5 linked regions of the Homo sapiens genome follow. The protein of the gene in region 2 interacts with the protein of the main gene of each other region in a pairwise test. Each region holds a gene or a part of one and is shown on either strand. Other genes may lie near its edges. The genes, in order: MOB4, UBE2V2, RNF144A, DZIP3 and ZNRF1.

What was found.
Region 1: the proteins of UBE2V2 (region 2) and MOB4 interact in a two-hybrid assay, tested with the Homo sapiens proteins (one large-scale study listed by BioGRID and IntAct).
Region 3: the proteins of UBE2V2 (region 2) and RNF144A interact in a two-hybrid assay, tested with the Homo sapiens proteins (one large-scale study listed by BioGRID and IntAct).
Region 4: the proteins of UBE2V2 (region 2) and DZIP3 interact in a two-hybrid assay, tested with the Homo sapiens proteins (one large-scale study listed by BioGRID and IntAct).
Region 5: the proteins of UBE2V2 (region 2) and ZNRF1 interact in a two-hybrid assay, tested with the Homo sapiens proteins (one large-scale study listed by BioGRID and IntAct).

What each region holds. Positions count from the first base shown.
Region 1 is NC_000002.12:197,533,065-197,536,583, reverse strand, and holds part of MOB4 (MOB-like protein phocein), read right to left. Parts: intron 1,055-3,519; coding exon 954-1,054; intron 1-953. Other genes in the region: HSPE1-MOB4 protein, read right to left, coding at 954-1,054.
Region 2 is NC_000008.11:48,014,924-48,018,442, reverse strand, and holds part of UBE2V2 (ubiquitin-conjugating enzyme E2 variant 2), read right to left. Parts: intron 1-3,519. UniProt on the Homo sapiens protein: Has no ubiquitin ligase activity on its own. The UBE2V2/UBE2N heterodimer catalyzes the synthesis of non-canonical poly-ubiquitin chains that are linked through 'Lys-63'. This type of poly-ubiquitination does not lead to protein degradation by the proteasome.
Region 3 is NC_000002.12:7,014,907-7,018,425, reverse strand, and holds part of RNF144A (E3 ubiquitin-protein ligase RNF144A), read right to left. Parts: intron 1-3,519. UniProt on the Homo sapiens protein: E3 ubiquitin-protein ligase which accepts ubiquitin from E2 ubiquitin-conjugating enzymes UBE2L3 and UBE2L6 in the form of a thioester and then directly transfers the ubiquitin to targeted substrates.
Region 4 is NC_000003.12:108,683,722-108,687,240, reverse strand, and holds part of DZIP3 (E3 ubiquitin-protein ligase DZIP3), read right to left. Parts: intron 3,026-3,519; coding exon 2,900-3,025; intron 814-2,899; coding exon of another isoform or gene 797-813; coding exon 657-796; intron 1-656. UniProt on the Homo sapiens protein: E3 Ubiquitin ligase proteins mediate ubiquitination and subsequent proteasomal degradation of target proteins.
Region 5 is NC_000016.10:75,005,510-75,009,028, reverse strand, and holds part of ZNRF1 (E3 ubiquitin-protein ligase ZNRF1), read right to left. Parts: exon of another isoform or gene 1,951-3,519; intron 1-1,950. UniProt on the Homo sapiens protein: E3 ubiquitin-protein ligase that plays a role in different processes including cell differentiation, receptor recycling or regulation of inflammation. Mediates the ubiquitination of AKT1 and GLUL, thereby playing a role in neuron cells differentiation.

The sequences.
Region 1 (3,519 bases), on a different chromosome or scaffold from region 2:
CACAGTTATGCAAAAATGGGGAAACGGAAATACTATATTAGCGGTTAAGAGATACAATTAAGGAAAATCATGAAATAAGAATAAAACCCAGGCTGGCATGGTGGTAATCCCAGCACTGTGGGAGGCCAAGGTGGGTGGATTGCTTAAGCCCCGGAGTTTGAGACCAGCCTAGGCAACATGGTGAAACCTTGTCTCTACAAAAAATACAAAAAACTAGCCAGGCTTAGAGGCATGCACTAGTAGTCCCAGCTACTCAGGAGGCTGAGGTGGGAGGATTGCTTCAGCATGGGAGACAGAGGCTGCAATGCGCCAAGATTGCACCACTGCATTCCAGCCTAGGCAACAGATCAAGACCCTGTTTCAAAAAAAAGGCGGGGATAATAAGGCCCAAATGAATAAATGTAGAAAGGGTGGCTCAATACTTTGGGAGGACAAGGTAGGAAAATTGCTTGAATCCAGGAGTTTGAGACTAGCCTGGGCAACACAATCAGATCCTGTCTCTACAAAAAATTAAAAAATTAGTGAGGCATGCTGGCACACACCTGTAGTCCCAGCTACTCTGGAAGCTGAAGTGGGAGGATCACTTGAGCCTAAGAGGTAGAGGCACAGTAAGCAGTGATTACACCACTGCACTCCAACGTGGGCAAGAGAGTGAGACCCCATCTCAAAAAAAAAAAAAAAAAAGAAAAGAAAAGAAGAGAGGTGCAGAGGCAGGTCCAAATTATCAACTCTGAAATAAACCACCTTTCAAAATGAGTGACTCTGCAGCATAATTTGACCTGGAAACAACCAGTGAAGAAAGCTGAGAACCTTGTGACACTGAAAATGCCAAAGCTTTAAAATTTGGCTTCTTAGTCTGCAGTTACATAGTAAATTTTACAATTCATAATTATCATTAATATGAAAGCTAGTTTTGTGAGAGGTACTATTAGTATTTTGATGTAAGGTCCTACCTTAAATGTTCATACTTCCACACACCTTCATCTTGGCCTTCAGGTGGTTCAAGAATTTTGTCAATATTGGAGCAATCTGCTCTTATGTTCTGTTGAATATACTAAAAACAAAGAAGTTCTTATGGTTAATTAAATTATATCACCTGGTAAATCTTATGTTAAGTACATATAATTTGTTAATACATAACTGCTCTTGTGGTTCAACTTGGGTTATACACTAAATAGGAAACCAAGTATAGAATCATAATCAGTAACTAAGAAAAAAAGTAGGTTACCCTTACTTATTTATCCTTCAATTCAACTTCATTTGGATAGAATCTACTACATAAATGCAGATATTGTATTTGTCAGGACTGGAACTTGGATCAAAATTGCAAACCATAATTTCTTTTTTTTTTTTTTTTTTTTGAAACAGGGTCTCACTGCATCACCCAGGCTGGAGTACAGTGGCACAATCTCAGATCACTGCAATATCCACCTCCTGGGCTCAAGCAATCCTCCCACCTCAGCCTCCTGAGGAGCTGGGACTACAGGCACACGCCATCACGCCGGGCTAACTTTTCCATATTTTGTAGATACAGGATTTCACCATAGGCAATGTAAATATAACTATGGTACATATTGTGATTTGGTTTATATGAAGTGTCTAGAGTAAGAAAATCTATTGAGACAGGAAATAGATTTGTACTGGTGTAGGGCTTGAGGGCAGAGAGGAAGGCAGAAGAGACTGAAGATGGCTGCTAATGAGGGTGAGGTTTCCTTTCAGGAAGGATAAATATGTTCTAAAAGGCCGGGCGTCGGGGCTCATGCCTGTAATCCCAGCACTTTGGGAGGCCGAGGTGGGCAGATCACAAGGTCAGAAAATCGAGACCATCCTGGCTAATATAGTGAAACCCAATCTCTACTAAAAATACAAAAAAATTAGCCAGGCGTGGTGGCACACACCTGTAGTCCCAGCTACTCTGGAGGCTGAGGCAAGAGAATCGCTTGGACCCGGGAGGCGGAGGTTGCAGTGAACCAAGATCGTGCCACTGCACTCCAGCCTGGGCAACACAGTGAGACTCCATCTCAAAAACAAAACAACAACAAAAAAGCTTTAAAATTAGACTGTAGTGATGGCTGTGCAACCCTGTGAATATAATCACTCTAACTGTATAGGGATTTGTATGGTATGTTCATTAGATCCAATAAAAGTTGTTTTAAATGACTAACAGAAAAAACTAAGTTTAAAAAAAAAGGCAAGGGAGGGTCACTTTCAATTTTTAAAATGTAATAACATAAAAATTTAAATTTCAGATCTCTGTAATGCTTTATGCAATCTTTTTGATATTCTGAAGTCTAAATACGTTAGAACAGATTAAAAGGGTGGTTACAAAAACTTACTAACTATAAGGCCTTCTTGAGCCAATCAATTTTGCCTACTTCAGACAATCTTTCTTGAATATCACTTGCTTACTCAAAAACTTTTTTTTCCAAACAAAAGGTCTCACATATTTAGTACTGAACCAGCCTACTGCAGAGCATAGAAACCAAAAGAAAAACCATTGTTCCAATACAGCATGTACAACTGTCCAGATGATGGTGACATTTTCAGCTTGATATGGTGACATGATAGTGACCTTGATGCAATATTAAGTATGTGTGCCATCTCATGTAAAATTCCTTCTAGACCCAGCTTGGTTCTTTTCCAATGTCTCCTCTTAGAGTTGTACCTGATTTTATTACTCAGTTTTCATCTGAATCCACTGGGGAATGGGACGATTTTGCTTTTGTTTCTTGGCCAGGAATCACTTGATTCTAAAAGTCTTAAAGTCTTGTGGGAAGGCATGGCAAAGAACTGAGTCACACGCACACACCATGATGACAGGGAAAGGGATCAAATACTTTTTTTTTTTTTTTTTTTTTTTTGAGGAGTTTTGCTCCTGTCGCCCAGGCTGGAGTGCAATGGCTCAGTCTTGGCTCACTGCAACCTCCGCCTGCCGGGTTCAAGCGATTCTCCTGCCTCAGCCTCCCGAGTAGCTGGGAATACAAGCACCTGCCATCACGCCCGGCTAATTTTTGTATTTTTTGTAGAGACAGGGTTTCGCCATGTTAGTAAGGCTGGTCTCAAACTCCTGACCTCAGCTGATCCACCCGCCTCGGCCTCCCGAAGTGCTGGGATTACAGGCATGAGCCACCGTACCCAGCCTCAAACACTTTTTAATGACTCTTTAATTACTATTGAAACCACTCTCCCTGATTTTTTTTATCTCATCCTAATGTTTCAAAGTTTTGATTCTCTCTCTCCTTGAGGAGATACAGCTAAATTGTATACCTTCTCCAAAGGCCACCTCAAATTCCACATCACAATTCTGTCCAAATCTCTCGTTCCCCCAACACACTCAAGCACTCCCTGATTATTCGAATCCTCACAGAACTCCATCCAATTTCCTGCCACATTTGTAATTTGTATATATTAGCAATCTGTCTATTCATTTTTGTCTTTCCTGTTCCCACTACACCTTCTATGGATAGAAATTTTTTTTTGTTTTTGAGATAGAGTCTCACTCTGTCGCCCAGGCTGGAG
Region 2 (3,519 bases):
AAGTTAAACACATGCTCTTGAACAACCAATAGGTCAATGAAGATATTAAAAAACAAATTAGGAAGTTTATTGAAAAAAATGAAAACTGAAACACACAGCATACAAAGCCTATGGAATACAGCAAAAGCAGTTTTAAGACAGAAGTTTTTATAACAATAAACACTGACATCATATGTCTTCTGCAAACAGGAACAGTTTAACTTCTTTTCCAATTAAGATGCCTTGTATTTCTTTCTCTTGTCTTATTGCTCTTTCTAGGACTTCCAGTATTATGTTGAACAGAAGTGGCAAAATTGGGCATTGTGCAGCTGGGCATGGTGGCTCACACCTGTAATCCCAGCACTTTGGGAGGCCGAGGCGTGTGGATCACCTGAGGTCAGGAGTTCGAGACCAGCCTGGCCAACATGGCGAAACCCCATCTCTACTAAAAATACAAAACATTAGCCAGGTATGGTGGCGTGCACCTGTAGTCCCAGCTACTCGGGAGGCTGAGGTGAGAGCCTGGGAAGTTGAGGCTGCAGCGAGCCGTGACTATGCCACTGCACTCCAGCCTGGGTGACAGGTTGAGACTGTCTCAGGAAAAAAAAAAAAAAAAAGGCAATCTATGAAACTACTAGAAAACAGGAAGAAAAGTCAATGGCATTGGTCTGGGCAATGATTTTTGGAGGATATGACCTCAAAAGCACACTCAACAAAAGCAAAAACAGACAATTTGGATCACATAAAACTAAAAATCTCCTGCACTGCAAAGGAAACAATAAAGAGAGAACTGGCAGGCGCGGTGGCTCTCGCCTGTAATCCTAGCACTTTGGGAGGCTGAGGCAGGCAGACCACCTGAGGTCGGGAGTTTATTACCAGCCTGACCAACATGGAGAAATCCCGTCTCTACTAAAAATACAAAATTAGCAGTGCATGGTGGCACATGCCTGTAATCCCAGCTACTTAGGAGGCTGAAGCAGGAGAATCCCTTGAACCCAGGAGGCAGAGCTTGCAGTGAGCTGAGATCGTGCCATTGCACTCCAGCCTGGGCAACAAGAGCGAAACTCCACCAAAAAAAAAAAAAAGAGAGAGAGAACATACAGAATGGTTCACTATACTCGTAAACTATATATCTGATAAGGGGTTAATAACCAAAATATATAAGGAACTCCATTCAATACCAAGAAAATAACCTCATGTAAAAATGGGTAAAAGATCTGAATAGACATTTCTCAAAAGACATACAAATGGCCAAGAGGTATATGAAAAAAATTCTCAACATCACTAATCATCAAAGAAATGCAAAAAAAAACCCACATGAGGTATCACCTCACTCCCATTAAAATGGCTATAATCAAAAGGATGAAAGATGAGGCCAAGCGCAGTGGCTCACGCCTGTAATCCCAGCACTTTGGGAGGCCAAGGCAGGTGGATCACCTGAGGTCGGGCGTTTGAGACCAGCCTAGCCTGGCCAACATGGTGAAATCATGTCTCTACTAACAATATGAAAATTAGCCAGGCATGGTGGCGGGTGCCTGTAATCCCAGCTACTCGGGAGGCTAAGACAGGAGAATCGCTTGAACCTGGAGGTGGAGGTTGCAGTCAACTGACATCTCGCCACTGCACTCCAGCCTAGGCGACAGAGCGAGACTCTGTCTCAATTAAAAAAAAAAAAAAAAAAAGGCTGGGCACGGCGGCTCACGCCTGTAATCCCAGTACCTTGGGAGGCCAAGGTGGGAAGATCACCTGAGGTTGGGAGTTCGAGAGCAGCCTCACCAACATGGAGAAACCCCGTCTCTAATAAAAATACAAAATTAGCCAGGCATGGTGGTGCGTGGCTGTAATCCCAGCTACTCGGGAGGCTGAGGCAGGAGAATTGCTTGAACCCAGGAGGTGGAGGTTGCAATGAGCCGAGATCATGCCATTGCACTCCAGCCTGGGCAACAAGAGCCAAACTCCGTCTCAAAAAAAAAAAGATGACAGATAACAAGTGTTGGTGAGTATGTGGTGATAAAGGATAATCTAAGCATGCTGTTGGTGGGAATGTGAATTAGTACAACCATATGGAGAAAGAAGAGTATGGAGTTCCTCAAAAACCTAAAAACAGAGCTACCGTATGATCCAGTAATCCTGCTACTGCATATATAGCCAAAGAAAATAAAATCAGTATGTCAAAGAGAGGCCTGCACTCCCATTTTATTGCAGCACTACTCAAAATATGCAAGATATAGAATCAACCTAAGTATCCATCAACCAACAAATGGATAGGCTGAGCGCGGTGGCTCACGCCTGTAATCCCCATACTTTGGGAGGCCGAGGCAGATGGATTGCTTGAGGTCAGGAGTTTGAGACCAACCTGGCCAATATGGTGAAACCCCATCTCTACTAAAATACAAAAATTAGCCGGGCTTGGCGGCGGGTGCCAGTAATCCCAGCTACTAGGGAGCCTGAGGCAGGAGAATTGCTTGAACCCAGGAGGTGGAGGTTGCAGTGAGCTGAGAACGCGCCACTGCACTCCAGCCTGGGTGACAGAGTGAGACTCCGTCTCAAAAAAAAAAAAAAAAAAAACCACACAGACAAATGGATAAAGAACATGTGGTATACGTATACAGTGGGACACTGTTCCAATCATAAAAAAGAAGGAAATTCTCTCATTTCCAACAACATGGATGAACCTGGAGAACATTATGTTAACTGAAATAACACAGGCACAGAAAGACAAATACATATTATCTCACTCATATATGGAGTCAAAATTGATCTCACAGAAGTAGACAGGAGATGGTGGTTACCAGAGGTTAGGATGGTTGGGGTTACGGGGGTGGGGATTGGGAAGATGTTAGACAAAGGATACGTAATTACAGTCAGGAGGAACAAGTTTAAGAGCACTACTGTATAGCATGGTGATTAGTTAACAACATACTGTATTCTTGAAAAATACTCAGTAGCTATTAAGTATTCTCACCACAAAAATGATAACTATGTGAGATAATGTATTTGGTAATTAGCTAGATTTAACCATTCCACAATGTACAGATAATGTACTTCAAAACATTAGCAAGCATTGTTCAAATTAATTTTTTTTTTGACACAGTGTCTTGCTCTGTCGCCCAGGCAGGAGTGCAGTGACACGATCACAGCTCACTGCAGCCTCAACCTCCCAGGCTCAACCCATACTCTACCTCAGCCTCCCAAGTAGCTGGGACTGCAGGTGCACATCACCACACCCAGCTAATTTTTGCATTTTTTGTAGAGATGGGATTTTCTTGTATTGCCCAGGCTGGTCTTGAACTCCTAGGCTCTAGTAATCCACCCACCTCGACCTCCCAAAGTGCTGGGACTACAGGTGGAAGCCACTGCACCCAGCCTCAAGCTACTCTTGACAAGCCTTATTTTTTTTTTTTTTTTTTTTTGGAGATGGAGTCTCGCTCTGTCACTCGGGCTGGAGTGCAGTGGCACAATCTCAGCTCACTGCAAGCTCCGCCTCCCGGGTTCATGCCATTCTACTGCTTCAGTCTCCCCAGTAGCCAGGACTACAGG
Region 3 (3,519 bases), on a different chromosome or scaffold from region 2:
GCCTCCGACAACTCTCTGCCTGCCCTCTGTGAGTGCTGTGGGGTGAGCCCAGCTTTGTCCCTGATGAGATAGGAGGCCCATGTCTGCCCAGCCCTGCGGGAGGGTGCAAGTGCTGTGTGCACTAAACAACACGCTGCGCGGGAAGAGAAATCCTCACCCGCTCTTTGCTCTCCTCCCGATATAGCTCTGAGGCTAGATCCAGAAGGGCAGCGCTGCCTGCTAGGGACCCTTCCGTCTCACTGCTGTCCCCACCTCTCCTGTGCAGTAGGAGCTTCTGACATCAGCAAGGAGCAGACATCCCAAAGCTGGGTCTCGGTCTCTTCATGCACGTGATTTGTCATGCACCACCTCCTGTCCACCCTCCTGGCTCAACAGTGGGGGATGCTATTAAGCATCCCCATCACAAAAGGCCCCCCAGGATAGCACACAGGGGAGACCTGGCTAAGGTTTCCATGGGAACGATTTAAATCTTATTAGTTTTGTCCTCATATAGCTGTGACACGGCACTGCCTGTCCTCACATGGAGAGATTCCCTATCGAAAAGGTCAGGGACAAACGGCCGCTCTGACTGCAGACTGCAAATGTCCTTCCTGTGCTGCCGGGGCATGTCACACCCTGTGAACATGGCCCCAGGCTGAGGCGTAGATGTCTATTAACATTCTGCATTATCCTCCCCAATCTACACACGTGTGTGTATGAGACATATTTTCAAACAAAGCAAATGATATGCTTTTTGGCACACTAGAGGAAACTAATGTTAACTCTTCTCTCCCAGAGGCGTATTCATGGCAGATTAATGAAGCAGGTCTCTTAAGAACTCCCTGCTTAAAAATGCATAAAACTTTTTAAAAAGGTGGCTTTCCTTTTAAAACAGTTTCCTTTCAGAAGTACATGACAGAGAACGATGCACCCAGCATCCCCTCTCATCCCTGCACTTACTACCCTGCCCGGCGGGCTGGTGCCTGGTGCAGGGCTGGGATGGTGGGTTTGATCCTGCTGTGAGATGGCAACATTTTCAGGAGTCGGCTCTAGTCAGGCCTGATTACAGGTGGATAACCCATCGTATTATTTAATCTCTCTGAGCTTTACTTTAAAAAAAAAAAACAAAGAACAAAAAAAAAAACAATACACGGTTGACATCTGACATCAGCATTCACTTGGCCAGGCACTGGGCTGGCATGGGACGAAGGCATGAGGACCCACAGTCCTGTCTCTGGGAGGGCTGAGCCTCCAGATAGAGGCAGGTGCACAGCAACGCCCTTAGCACAGCACCGCTGGGTCTCAGAGGGCCACGGGCGTCGAGTGTAGCATGAGAGAGGGGTCCACGCAGCAAGAGGCATCCACACCCCCTCGCTCAAGAATCTGTCCCTACCCAGACTCTGGAGTGAGCCAGTTGTGAGGAGGTGTTCAGAATGAAAACTCAGCTTCCTGGCCCCCTTCCCTGGCTTCCTGCTTGCCCCAGAGCTCCAGAAGGGGAAGACATTGACGCTAAAACCAAGGCTGTTATATCAGAGGAGACATTCTAAGACTAAGTGCAGACAGTGTGCGCAACATGACCTAACCATAGAACTTTCTGGTAACTCAATGTTTTCAGAAAATCATTGAACTGTCTCAGTTTTCTTCCAGGGCGTCCTCTACTTGACTAGATTTTAGAGCCATAGAGACAGTCAAAATTTGCTTTCTGATCTTGTCTCCAAACTCTTTCAAGGTGCTGGCTATAATCCATAACTATATTTTAGCTCTGACATTCTAACGTTTTATCTAGACAGGTCTTTTATAGTATGAAGTCTGAATACTTAAAAAAAAAAAAACTTTGAACATAATGTTAGTAAAATGCTTTAAAGGGAGAGGCTTGAGAGATTTTTTTTTTTTAACAGAAGCCAAGTTGGCTTCATGTTTATGCAAAAGGAAAAAAGATTTTCTGACTAAGCCAAAGTACTAAAGAAATAACAGTTAAAATTATTAGGTTGAAAAATGTACCCAGCTGCATTTTTAAATTAAATTCAATGTCATAGAAAGTTCATATTCTTGTAACGCAAACAACAGCCAGTTTCTGTCAAGATTCTCTCTGGAAAATATTCTCAGAAGAGCCTGAAAGTCTCAGAAGTCTAAATTAATCAATTTTATTGCCCTACGTACTGACTTTTGTACCAAATGGCATTATATTAAAGCTATAAACTGCCCCAAAGCAAATGATATACGACACTTTAATAAACACACTCTTGAAAACAAATGTCAATGCCATGAAAAATGCTGTTTGAGTTTTTTTTTAAGTGGGCTACATATTTTTTTCTTTTTCTTTCTTTTTTTTTTTTTTTTTTAGAGACGGGGTCTCAATATGTTGCCCAGGCTGGACTTGAACTCCTGAGTAGTTGAGACTATAGGTACATGCCACTGGGCCCAGCTATCTCTAGCATTTCTTTTAGAAAGCAAAAATATACAAACAACAGGTCTCTGCATGCAGCTAAACTGGGAGTCTCTGGATATTGTCCTCTGGTCTCCTCTGCCGTCCACTCCCCATCCGGCCATGTTTTCATGTAAGCCCACCCTCCAGGGCTGTGTCTCAGTGGTGAGACCCTGCTCAGGTCAAGAACCCGAGAATCAGTGCAGGGAGAGGGAGAGCAGATGCCAGCAATCCAAACTCAGAATCCGCCTGCAAGGTCCACACAATGATGTTCTGCATATGGAGTGTCGCCTGCACACATCTGTCACTCTGCTCTTTACCAGACAAGCCTGGGGCCCAGAATAGATATGAAAACAAAGCCAAAGAGAGTCCACAGACTCTTTACAGTTTCATTGTATGACCCCGGAGTATTTCAGAGAGCAGAGCTAAAGACCTCTCCTGGACATTCCACATGGCTTAATGCTTTGCAATATTATCCTGAGAATCATGTTCTGCTCTGTGTGCACCTGCCACACTGCTCTCCCAGAGGACCCCTGGGTCTGCATCAGGCCTGCTCCAGCCAGAAGGACTATTCAGGGCCCAGTGGAGGGCTCACGATGAAGGGTCATGGGATGTGGTCCCAAAGCACCCACTATATTTAGAAATCAGGGCAAGTCAGTTAGCCTCTCTGGGGATCCGTTTATTAGATAATGACAAATTAGCTTTGCAGAGTTGTTGTGACACTTACTGGGATAAGGGACTTGATTATTCATTCACCACCTACTATCTAGGTCTGTGTCCAGTGGTGAGTAAGCGCAGACAGGACACCTACCATCGGACTGTTGTTAGGACGGGGGTTACTGTAATTTCTGCTATGCCTACCCTCACGACTTCCCTCCATGACTCTGCATCTTTTAACTTCTGGGCCAGTCCAAGAGTTTAGCCCTCAAACTCAGCCTTAAGCTGGCTGAAATATAATACCTCAAGAGAGCCATCAACTTTAAGCCTCCCCCAGGAGCCTCAATCCTTATAAACAAATTGTGTTCCATAAATTCTTCCTGCTACCAAATAGATCACTAGACAAGGTCTTCAAACTGTGAGCTGTTCAGAGAATCCAGAATGTCAGTTTAATTTCA
Region 4 (3,519 bases), on a different chromosome or scaffold from region 2:
TTATGAAATTTATAAAATTATAATTTAATAATGAAGTGTGCCAGTATATATATTAAATGTTTGTATTGAAATAAAAATACTTGTGAAAAGTAGAATTATTTCCTTAGATATGAGTTGAGATAAAAGAAACTTCATTTGTGTAGGAATATAATTAAATATCTTTCTACTAAAGGTAGACTGTGAAAAGCACAGTAAAGTTATGATTTCTTGCATTTTTAGTGTGTTCTCCAACAAAGAAACTATAAGGACCCTCAAAATTAAGGAAATTAGGAAATTAAATCCTAAAGATGTTTGGGCTTATATAGCATACAATCAACTTAAAATTCACTTTGGAGATAGGTTAAGATAATAATGGCAGTTAGTGCCATTAAAATTGGGTAAGTTTACATCTAGTTGTACTTTTAGTAAATGAGCATACCTAAATTTAAAGTTATTCTCTCATGATTTAAGACAAGTAACTTTTTAATGAAGAGGTTCACCATTGAACACTGTCTCTTCTTGGTAAATTTCTTTTTCCTTACCAAGGTCAAGGTAAGGAAACATCTGTACTTTTTTTGTGTTTGTTATGTTTCTCTGAAATGTTTCATTGCCACAATTATGGCTATGAAAACTGGAGAATATGATCTGTACCCACCAATAAATAAAAACTAAGGTACCTGGTTTGCTGTGGAAAGGCAGTTTTCAGCCTGTCTGTAATTCTCTCCCAATTCATGATGGAGGGATCACTCCGCAGACCTGCACTGGGAGGCACAGCGTCTCCCACAGGCGCTGGCAGAGCCCAGGCTATGCCAGTCATCTGTAAGAGGCAGAGAGCTATAGCCCAGCAGGTTTAATTATTAAGAAGTGACATTCCTATACCTCAGAAAATGGGTACAATGAAGAAGCGTACTGGCATACACATTCAATTTTTACAGTTTTTCTCTTAATATTTCTAATTGTTTGTAACTATTTTAAACTTATTTTAAAAATAGGACAAAGAAAAGGGTAGAATGAAGAAGAATACTGGCATACACAATCCCTTTTAGGGTTTTTCTCTTAACTAATACAAACAATATTTCTAACTGTTTATAAATATTTAAACTTATTTTTAAAATAGGACATGCTTGCTTCAGTAATTACATACATGTACAGCAAAACATGAAGGCTGTTTACTGCTGTTTCTCTTTTAACAGTGAAAACTGAAAAAACCTTACATCTATAGAGAAATGAATAAATTATGGCACATCTAATCAAGTTTTTAAAAATAGAACTGTATGTCTGGGCATAAGAGATATGCATGAAATATGATTTTTTAAAAAGTCTGTGGCACAGTATTTATGATACGACTTCCTTTTACATTAAAAAATTTTAAATGCATATGTATACACGGAGAAAGGTCTGTAAATTACAATGCGTAAGAAGTGATTATTTCTTAGGGATCAATTGCACAGTAACTTTGTTTTCTAATGTGCTTACATTTCTATATTATTCGCATTTTGTGATTAGCATATATACCTTTATAACGAGAAAGTAAAGTTACATTTTTCAAACAACCAAATAAAGATGGGAATACTACTAGAACTGCTCTGCCCAATGTCTCATCAATGTTGTAGACAAAAGTGGTGCAGAAGTTGTAGTGACATGCAGCCATGAAACCATCACTTTTCTCCATATTTTATGGTAGTTCCTTCTTAAGATTCTAATTAAATAATATAATAACAGAGTATTTTTGGAGTGCTCATCTGATTACTAAGATAATTATGACCACTTGCACCTTTTATGTAAGGCTCTAATGGGTTATTTTCAAATATTAGGTTATTATTCATGAAAAACTAGCAACTACTAACAGTCACTGTAATAATTTGTACAGAGCCTAAGAAGTGAGGGGAAGCAGAATATTTCCCAGAAATCTGAATTTGCTTCTATGTCAAGCTTTACCCCAGGAATCAGAAAGTAATCTTATTAGGAGATTAAGGTATTTTAATGTTTTTAATAAAATTTTATCATAGTTTCTTATAGAATGGTGGGCAAGCAAATTGCAAGAGTTAACACTGTAATATCATGGTAGTAAAAAGATGTGTTACTTATTTAACATATTAAGGACTATATACAGATTTGTTTATAGACAGGTAGCCTCGACAATAATAAGCAGAGTCCACCTGACCATGTATTTCAAAAGGAAACTGTTAGCAATATATGGGGAGCAGAAAAGAAAAGAAACAATTAATTGCACCTAATTATACTTATAGGAAAATCAAGATTAGAGAATTTTCATTAATTACATCTAACATCATTCTTTTGGAAGATTTTCCTTTAATAAAAAACCTTCACCAAGATTACAACTGATAATTCTGGTAATTTCAAATTTATATGTTCCTTCTTCAGGTTTGGATAAAGTTTATCTGGCTATTTGTAGCTGGGAAGATTTATAACTTTACAGTTTATGTTTCAAGGTGATGCTATTTATAGTCTGTTTATAGATACACTTGAAATACTGTCCTACTATGTGTGTGTACGTGTGTGGAAATAAAATTTTTCTTTAGCTTTGTGCCATAATATAGTTTGTTGTGACTTGGCTTCTTTGCTTTTCAATCTTCCCAACAACCATGCCAAAAAAATCTATTAAAAATGTCAATTTACCCTGCATTGTTGCCTATTTCAGAAGCAATACTATAATTTTAAGGATTCTCTAGTATAAAAACATATTTATCTTTGTATCCCAAAACGAAGCTAGTATCAGTTAAATAATATATGTAACACCCTGAGCACAGTGCTTCACAGGAAGTATTCATTCAATTATCACCACCACCCCCATCATTATCATATCAAATGAATGAACAAAATGAAGATACTCATTCAGGAAGCCCACTAGAGTAATAAAAAAACTAATTAACATCTATTCCACCAAGAAAGCTTTTACCAGGGGGGCTCTAGGTTGGCCAGTTGCAGAGACGACTCCCGGGCAAACTGCAGGCATTTGAGGAACAGTAAGTATGGGTCTAAAGAAAGATTCTTTCACAAGAGGTCTTCCTAAGAACTGCTGCATCTAAAATAGAAAATATAAACAATAATAAACAACACCCCCCCCCACATATTTATATATTTATTTAGGCAATCATCTAAATTCATACAGCAATATGGCGGGGGGAACACTCATTTGAACTCAAGATACAAAGCACATTAGAAACAATGTATGTCAGAAAATGAAACATATGAATATTGGAAAAACAAAGGGCAATGAGATATATTGAAAACAGCATTGACAAAGACAGAAAAGAAATAGCTTCTAGTCACATTTCTCTCTACGTAGCTGAATAACCTTGGAAACCAATTTCCTAATCTATAAAATGAGAGGGTTGGATAAGGTAATCATTAAGGTTCCCTCCCAACTGTAATCACATAGAACTATGCAAAGGAGATTCTCAGGAAGTGTTATCTATGTTGGTGGGCAATATTGATACTCAGAAATTTCACAGAACAACCCAAAGTTATCCATAGAAAATATTTTATATTGGAGGTAATACTTGATGAAATTTTGAC
Region 5 (3,519 bases), on a different chromosome or scaffold from region 2:
ATGAAGAGTCTGAAAATCAGTTTTTCTTTTGATATTCTCACTGAGAGGACAGAGGACCCCTCATACTGAGACATACGAGGAATTTCTTGGTAGGTACTTAGCTGGAATCACAAAGAAAAGATCACCTGCCCCAACCCAGAAATAGGGCTTTGGAAAAAAATGAGTGAAGAGAAGTATATCCTTGCAGCAGCCTTATGGACAAACACCTACATTTATTTGTTTATTCAACAGAGGAGCTGATGAAAAGGTAAAATCTCCCAGAAGCTAAAATATTCAGACTCTTAAGGAGTGAGGAAGCAAAGATTCTTGGAAAGAATAAGTTAATTGCTCTATAATAAATATATATATTCTCAGCACCTACCATAGGTCCTGGTATACCAGAGGCTATCAATGGAATAAATGAACGTTTTTGTTCAACAGATCATCACACACAAAGAAAAAAAAGTCTTATACTTTTGGGTCAGTCAGAGAAAAGGAAAAACAGGTCTTCCAACCTCTTTAAAGCCTAGATTCATCCTAAGCTCTTGACTTGTCTAGCTGCCTGGCTGAAGATGTAGGAAAGAGGGTAACTCAGGAAGCCCTTCTGTAGCACCAGAGCCAAAGAAGAAAAGTCAGGAGGAAGACAAGTGCAGAAGGAAAGGCGACACTGACACCATTACCTTCTGTTCAGAGCAACTTCAATTCTCAGACCAAGGCAGATTGGCTTGGCCCTATATGTAGGCAATAATGCTTAGTCCCATGTAAAAGAAAACCATCAAATAGCCAACAATGTTGTTCCTGGTTGAACCTACCTTCTGCGAGCTGTAGAGATTGCTTAGCAAATATCTGACTAGAAATACTGAAAATAAAGGCCAGGCACAGTGGCTTCACACTTATAATCCCAGTATTTTGGGAAGCTGAGGTGGAAGGCTCACTTGAGGCCAGGAGTTCAAGACCAGCCTGGGCAACATGGTGAGACCCCTTCTCTACCGAAAAAAGAAAAAAAAAGTAAAAAAATTATCTGGTCATGGTAGCATAGCATCTGTAGTCCCAGATACTCCAGAGGCTAAGGCTTGAGAATTGCTTGAGACCAGGAGTTCCAGGCTGCAGTGAGCGTGATCTTGCTATTGCACTCCAGCCCGGGCAACAGAAGAAAAACCTTTCTCTAAAGAAAAATAAGAAGAAAAAACAAATAAAAAGAAAGCTAATGAATACACCAAAAAAGGATTCAAAGTTTATTTCTCTGTTTGGGGAGAGAAAAACTAAATGCTTGGTGGAGTTTAGTTTCAGATGTAGAAGGTCTTCTTGTTTTCAGGTTCATTTGTTACAAACTTAGATTCTTGGGTCTCCAGCTCTACTGAATTCTGTGAGTGGGGTCCAGTCATCTGCATCGTTAACTACCTCCCTAGAGAATACTGAGCACCTTTAAGAACCCTTCTGAACCATTCACAGAAATCAGGAGAGCTCTTGTTTTTATCTGCCTCTTTCTTGTTACAGATCCAAGAGGTCACTATAAATTCTTATCATGCCTCCCCTAAGTTGGAATTCACAGGGATCCAGTGAATTATTCCTTCCTCCTTTCTCCCAACAGAGGAAAGCTGTGTGTTCAAGACTAACGACTCTAGGGAGGTCTCAAGGTAAACAGTCTCATCAGTCTAGAAACTATTTCAGCTGCTGCTTTAGGATTAAATTTGGGGTCTGGCATCGTCGCTGACACCTGTAATCCCAGCACTTTAGGAGGCTGAGGCAGGAGGATCGCTTGAGCCCAGGAGTTTAAGACCAGCCTGGGCAACAAATGGAGACCCCATCTACACAAAATTAAAAATTAGCCAGGCGTAGCGGCATCCGCCTGTAGTCCCAGCTACTCAGGAGGCTGAGGAAGGAGGATCGCTTGAGCCCTACAGGCTGAGGCTGCAGTGAGCCATGATCGTGCCACTGCACTCCAGCCTGAACAAAGCGAGACCCTGTCTTAAAAAAAAAAAAAAAAAAAGATTAAACTTGGTTATTTGCTTCACACTTCACACTTGAGGGCTGGTCTTCAGGTTATTCACTCATACCCACAACTCATCCTTCATCCATACAGCACATAAAGGACAGAAACCCAACTGCTGGATTCAAGGATAAACCTGTGTTCTAGTGAGAACCTAAGATTCAGAAGTGAAAACTGCTGGGTCTCTAAGAATCCCCTTCTCACACTCAAGACTGAACCCATGGTAATTACTATGAACCATCTGATTCAGACTAGGCCATGAGAAAGCTTGGAAAAGAAACAGACTGAAATTTATATTCACCCATCATCCTAAAAGACTGAGGTGGCCAGGCACGGTAGCTCATGCCTGTAATGCCAGCACTCTGGGAGGCCAAGGCAGGTGGATCACCCGAGGTCAGGAGTTCGAGACCAGCCTGGCCAACATGGTGAAACCCTGTCTCTACTAAAAATACAAAAACTAGTCAGGCGTGGTGGTGCATGCCTGTAATCCCAGCTACTTGGGAGGCTGGGGCAGGCCAATCACTTGAACCCGGGAAGTGGACGTTGCAGTGAGCTCAGATCATGCCACTGCACTCCAGCCTGGGTGACAGAGTGAGACTCTGTCTCAATAAACAAACAAACAAACAAACAAACTGACTGAGGTTAAGATTTAGGTTTTGGGCTAACTTCAAGATTCTAGAACCACAACCTTAGTGATCCACTGTCATTAAAAACACCCCTACCTAAGGATGAGTAGGAGCAGAATCAATATCCCATTTAAGTTACCACCACTTCCCTATGAAGTTTTTCTAATTTTGAAGCTGTCAAAATTGAAGCTTAGTTTTATAATTGGGTATACAGCAGTACCCCTTGTCCAAGGCTTCACTTTCCATAGTTTCAGTTACCCGTGGTCAATGGAGGTCTAAAATATTAAGATACCATGACGCACCACCCTACATGCATGGGTCAACAAGCAACTGCATACATGATGGTGGTCCCGTAAGACTATATCCTGTACCTTTTCTATGTTTAGACACACAAATACTTACAACTGTATTACAATTGCCAACAGTGTTCAATACAGTCACATGTTGCACAGGTTTGTAGCCTAGGAGCACTAGGAGCAACATATAATCTAGGTATGTAGCAGGCTATACCACCTAGGTCCGTGTATGTACACCCTATGATGTTTGCCCAGTGACAAAATCCCTTAATGACCCATTTCTCAGAAAGTATCCCTGTCATTAAGCAATGCATGACTGTACTTTCGAGACAGGGAGAGAGAGAGAGAGAACACATTCACATAACTTTTATCACAGTATATTGTTATAATTGTTCTATTATTAGTTACTGCTGTCGAGCTTTTATTGTGCCTAATTTATAAATAAAACTTTATCAAAGGTATGTATATACAGGAAAAGACATAGTAGATATAGGGTTCAGGTGAGGTACTATCCACGGTTTCAGGCATCCACTGTGGGTATTGGAACGAATCCCCTTTGGATAGGGAGTAACTACTATACTCAAATTTCTGTGCCCAATAAGCTTGGGGTGAATACCACATATGTAAA